2 linked regions of the Homo sapiens genome follow. The protein of the gene in region 2 interacts with the protein of the main gene of each other region in a pairwise test. Each region holds a gene or a part of one and is shown on either strand. Other genes may lie near its edges.

Evidence for each region. The genes of interacting proteins can lie anywhere in the genome.
Region 1: the proteins of PYDC2 (region 2) and NLRP1 interact in a two-hybrid assay, tested with the Homo sapiens proteins (one study listed by IntAct).

What each region holds. Positions count from the first base shown.
Region 1 is NC_000017.11:5,513,034-5,516,063, reverse strand, and holds the end of NLRP1 (NACHT, LRR and PYD domains-containing protein 1), read left to right. Parts: intron 1-546; coding exon 547-591; intron 592-990; coding exon 991-1,310; 3' UTR 1,311-1,946; downstream 1,947-3,030.
Region 2 is NC_000003.12:191,459,350-191,462,580, reverse strand, and holds PYDC2 (pyrin domain-containing protein 2), read right to left. Parts: upstream 1,419-3,231; coding exon 1,125-1,418; downstream 1-1,124. UniProt on the Homo sapiens protein: May play a role in innate immunity by disrupting the interaction between PYCARD and NLRP3, thereby regulating the NLRP3 inflammasome. May also inhibit NF-kappa-B signaling distally by affecting the nuclear accumulation of RELA.

The sequences.
Region 1 (3,030 bases), on a different chromosome or scaffold from region 2:
TTCATTTTTGTCGTTGTCTGTTTTTTCTGTTAAAATTAATTTGTTATTCCCATGTCCTAAGATTGCTTGATCTTGATTCTAGATTCTGACATCCAAATCCAGAACGTACACCTTTGGTTGGTGCCAGTCTAGAAGGCTAAACAAGAACAAGGAAGTAGATTTCTGCTCAGACAAGGAGGTGCTAAATAGTTCAAGCTATCTAGCAAGGGGTTTGGTTAGTTCACCAGGGATACAATTCAGGCCAACACGGGATTAAAACCAAGTCTGGGATGTTATAGGAGAAATTGCTATCGCTCATTTGGATGTCTTCTATTACTGTATGATCACAGCTTCTGAGCCTCAGTTTCCCCATATGCATAAGGAAGGGATTCACCTAAATAACCTCTAAGGACCCTTCCAGCTCTTACTCCAGATTCTACCAGAATTTGTCTGTGGCTTTTTTCTAAATCAAAGAATCTCAGAAGTGAGTGGGAGCTTGGAGGTGTACCATGTGTGTTAATAACTTAGCACTGTTTCAGATGCATCTTCATCTCTGTTTTCCTCCAGGAGATCTCATGCCTGCAACTACTCTGATCCCTCCAGCCCGCATAGGTCAGTAACAGCTCTCAGAGACCACAGGAGGCGGTGGCAGTTCTGGGGTACTGTCTGGTTCTGGGGGAAGGGAAGAGAGAAAGGAAGGGACTCATCACTGCAAACCTCACAAAGAGTCAGGCCCTGGAGAGCGGTGCATGGTCGCTCCCCATACCCCCTTGTCCTATCCACAGAGACCCTAGAATTCCTTATCTGACAGCCTCCAATGTGCCCAGCAGGAACCCCACTCCCGATCCCCACTCTGGCAGAATGCCAAGCTAGATGCTGCCATGAGGGAGGACACAGGTGCATTTCTGGAGGCAGAAGGAAGCGAGGGATGCAGAGATGAGAGAGGAAAGCACTGAAGGTGGGGATTGGAGGTGGAGGCTGTGGTTGGAGCCCTTCTTTGTTCGTTGCCAGCCGTACCTTCACCTCTGGATGCCCCGCAGTTGCTGCACTTTGTGGACCAGTATCGAGAGCAGCTGATAGCCCGAGTGACATCGGTGGAGGTTGTCTTGGACAAACTGCATGGACAGGTGCTGAGCCAGGAGCAGTACGAGAGGGTGCTGGCTGAGAACACGAGGCCCAGCCAGATGCGGAAGCTGTTCAGCTTGAGCCAGTCCTGGGACCGGAAGTGCAAAGATGGACTCTACCAAGCCCTGAAGGAGACCCATCCTCACCTCATTATGGAACTCTGGGAGAAGGGCAGCAAAAAGGGACTCCTGCCACTCAGCAGCTGAAGTATCAACACCAGCCCTTGACCCTTGAGTCCTGGCTTTGGCTGACCCTTCTTTGGGTCTCAGTTTCTTTCTCTGCAAACAAGTTGCCATCTGGTTTGCCTTCCAGCACTAAAGTAATGGAACTTTGATGATGCCTTTGCTGGGCATTATGTGTCCATGCCAGGGATGCCACAGGGGGCCCCAGTCCAGGTGGCCTAACAGCATCTCAGGGAATGTCCATCTGGAGCTGGCAAGACCCCTGCAGACCTCATAGAGCCTCATCTGGTGGCCACAGCAGCCAAGCCTAGAGCCCTCCGGATCCCATCCAGGCGCAAAGAGGAATAGGAGGGACATGGAACCATTTGCCTCTGGCTGTGTCACAGGGTGAGCCCCAAAATTGGGGTTCAGCGTGGGAGGCCACGTGGATTCTTGGCTTTGTACAGGAAGATCTACAAGAGCAAGCCAACAGAGTAAAGTGGAAGGAAGTTTATTCAGAAAATAAAGGAGTATCACAGCTCTTTTAGAATTTGTCTAGCAGGCTTTCCAGTTTTTACCAGAAAACCCCTATAAATTAAAAATTTTTTACTTAAATTTAAGAATTAAAAAAATACAAAAAAGAAAAAATGAAAATAAAGGAATAAGAAGTTACCTACTCCATAGGCACAGCAGTCCCGACTGGCTGCTGGTTGGCTATTTTTGTGGTTATTTCTTGATCGTGTGCTAAACAAGGAGTGGATTATTCATGAGTTTTCCAGAGAAAGGGGTGGGAATTCCTGGAACTGAAGGTTCTTCCCCCTTTCAGACTACTTAGGGAAACTTCCAGATGCTGCCATGGCGTTCGTAAACTGTCATGGCGCTGGTGGGAATGTCTTTTAGTATGCTAATGTATTAAAATTAGCATATAATGAGCAGCGAGGACAACCGGAGGTCCCTTTCATCACCATCTTGGTTTGATGGGTTTTGGCTTCTTTACCACATCCTGTTTTATACGAGGAGTCTTTGTGAAACCAGTCCTGCCAACCTCCTATCTTATCCCCACCTCAGACATTACATACTCGTCCTTAATCTTAAGAGGTTGTAGAAGGACAGAGATCTATCTTCTGTCACTGCTTCATGCTGAACAGGGGCCATCATCCCTACCTGCTCTGGAGGCATAGAAATGTCTTCGTACCTGATCGAATGACTTATAGGGACTCCATCTTTTCTGCAGTGGCACAGGCTGGAACACTGGACTAATTATTTTTCTCTGAAACTGTTGTAGCCTGGAAGACATAAACTTGAACCGTCCGAACACCTGATGAATATAACAAATATTTTTAAAATCAAATAGCACCTAGTGATAATTCATAAAATACTTAAGCCCAGTTTTAAAGAAGAGATCAAAGCCAAGCATGGTGGCTCATGCATGTAATCTTAACACTTTGGGAGGCCAAGGCAGGAGGATCACTTGAGCTCAGGCTTTTGAGACTAGCCCGGGCAACATAGACTTTGTCTCTTTAAAAAAATAAGAAAGAAAAAAATAAGAGATCAGATGCCATTTGGAATCTAAGTGAATAGGCTGGAAAACTAGTCTTCTGTTGTCTGAAATACAAAGCCAAACAGATTTTTAATAAGAGAGATTTTTATGAGAACAGAAGAAAAAAAGGTTAATGCTGGACACAGTCTATCCAGGTATTAGACTCAAAAGCATCTTTAGTTATAAAGCAGGAAAGTGGTGGCAATCTGACACGCCTGTATCACA
Region 2 (3,231 bases):
AATCTCTCAGACATAAAAGGAGTTCCTGGAATCAATGAGAAAAAGACAAAACAAAACAAAAATGGAATAAAAAAGGAAAATTGTCAAGAGTATGAATAAATAGTTCATTGAATGGAAATATTAACGGTCTTTAAACATATGAAAAGATGGTAAACATTCATTGTCTCATTTTTTGCATTTTTAACATTTATTGAGATATAATTCACATATCACACAACTCATTTAAAGAATACAATTAAATGTTTTTAGCTTATTCACAGATATGTACCATCATCACCATAGTTGATTTCAGAATATTCTCATCACCTCGAAAAGCAATCTTAAATGTTTTAGCTATTACTCCCTATTCCCCTCTACTCACCAACTCTCCTTCCCAGTCCTAAGCAACCTGTTATCTACTTCTGACTCTATAAATTTGGCCATTCTGAACTTTCCTATGAATGGAATCATATCATATGTGATGTGACCATATAATATTTTGTCTTTTATGACAGGCTTCTTTCATTTAGCATAGTGTTTTCAATGTTCATTCATGTTTAAGCATGTGATCAATACTTCATTTTTGTCGAATAATATTTCATTAGCTGCATATGCCACAATTTGTTTATTCATTTGTCCATTCACAGACATTAGGTTGTTTCCACCTTTTGGCTATTGTATACAATGACACTATAAACATTTGTGTTTATGTTTTTATTTCTCTTGATCATGTACTTATAAATATAATATTAGATCATATGAGAACTCTGTTTATCATTTGAGAAATTGCCATCCTGTTTTCCAAAGTGGCTGCACAATTTCACATTTCCATAAGCAGTATATGAGGATTCTAGTTTCTCCACATCTGTGCCAATACTTGTTATTATCTTTCTATTCTAGCCAGCCTAGTGGATATGAAGTGGTATCTCATCATAGTTTTGATTTGCATTTCCCTGAATACTAAAGTTGTCAGGCATCTTTTCTTTTAATGTTTGTGAATTATTTCACCTTTATTTATCTCAAAATACTGGTGATATAGATATTTCATATATAACAAGGTTAAGCAACATGTGCATGTAAAATGGAGGCAGAACCAAGGCTAAAGCAACATCTAGCTCAGCCATCAACTCACTATCCCTGAGGGGTTAAGGTGGGGGCATCACACAGTGTTCATCAGCTCTCCCAGACAGATGCGTTTGATTCATCTTTTCAAAGACCTGGATGGCTGCCATCCCTGCCCAGTAGCTGCAGGAGTGGCTGGTGAAGATTTCTACCAGTTGCTTCCCATTAGCCTTGTCTACCTCTGTCTGGGGGACGGTCTGTAGCTCCTTTCCCAGGGAGATTGTTCTGATCAGAGACTTGAACTTGCTCAACTCATCCTGGCTGAGCTGCTCCAGAAGAGCCTGCAGGTTGAAGTCCAGCTCTGCAGAAGATGCCATCTTGTCCTATGTGGGAGCTCTCCCAACGCCTGGCCCTATGCTCTGGTTCTCACATTTTTTCATATACTAATAAGTATATATTTTTATATCTTTTTAGAAGAAATATCAGTTCAGATTTTTGCTCATTATAAAATTGCGTTATTGTCTTTTTATTGCTGAGTTGTAAGAGTTCTTTATATAGTCTAGGGACAGGTCCTTCATTAGATACGCGATACGCAAATTTTTGCTCCCATTCTGTGAGTTGTCTTATCAGTTTAATGATGGTGTCCTTTAAGGTACAAATGTTTTTCATTTTGATGAAATCAAATTTATCTATTTTTTTCTTATTTTTTATGCTTTTGATGTCATGTCTAAGAATCTTTTGCCAAGTCTCAGGTCATAAAGATGTACCCCTATCATTTACTATAAGAATATTACAGCTTTAACTCTTACATTTGGGTATTTGATATATTTTGAGTTAATTTTTGTATGTGGCATGAAATAGAGGTCCAACTTTATTCTTCTGCATGTAGAAATCTACTTGCCTAAGCATCATTTGTTGAAAAGTCTATTCTTTCCCCATTGTACGGTCTTGAAACCCTTGTTGAAAGTCAGTTGACCACAGATGTACGGGCTTATTTTTGGACTCTCAGTTCTGTTTTATTGAGCAATGTGCCTATCCTTATGCCAGTACCACATTATCTTAATTACCATTAAGATGCTAAGTCATGAAATGAGGAAATACTAAATAAATTACTAAGTCATGAAATAAGGAAAGGTGAATTGTCTTTGTTTGCTCTTATTTTTCAATATCATCTTGGCTGTACTGGGTCTATGCGATACTACTTGAATTTTCTAACTAGTTTGCCCATTTCTACATAAAGTAAGCTGAGGTTCTGACAGGGATTGTATTGAATCTGTAGATCAGTTTGGGGAGTAGTGCCATCTTAACAATGTAAATTAAGCCTTCCAATCTATAAACACGAGATGCTTTCCACTTATTTAGCTCTTTAATTTCTCTCAATAATGTCTTGTAATTTTCAGAGCATAAGTTTTACTTCTTTGTTAAAATTTATTTCTAGGTATTTTATTCTTTTTGATATGATTCTAAAAGGAATTGTTTTAATTTCAGTTTTGGACTGTTCATTACAAGTGTGTAGAAGAAAAACTGATTTTTATGTATGATCTTGTATCCTGAAACCTGGATGAACTCATTTAATAGTTCTAACAGGTTTCGAGTGAATTTTTTAGGATTTCCTATATACAAGATTATGTTATCTGCTAATACAGACACTTTCACTTCCATTCCAATCCAGTTGCCTTTCTTATCTTGTCTAGTTGCTAGGGCTAGCACCACTAATGTAATGTTGTATGGTCATGCTAAGAGCAGATAGCATTGAGATGGTCCTGATTTTAGGACAAAAATCATTTTTCCATTAAATATAATTTTGGCTATGAGTTTTCATAGATAACTTTTATCAGATTGAGGAAGCTCCCTTCTATTTTCCAGTTGGGAGTATTTTTATCATGAAAGGAAGTTGGGTTTTGTCCAGTGCTTTTTCTGTGTTTATTGAGATAATCATGTAATTTTTGTTTTTATTCTACTGATATGATGAATTATATTAATTGATTTTCATATGTTCAAACCAACCTTGCCGTCCTGGGATAAATCCCACTTGGTCATTGTGTATAATTCTTTTTATAGGTCACTGTATTCAATTTGCTTGTATTTTTTGGAGTGCATGTTTCAGATTGAGTATAAATTTATATGAACCCTAGAGAAGGCAGTCCTGAAAAATATAAACGACAAGAGCATTTGCTCTTTGACCTGGCT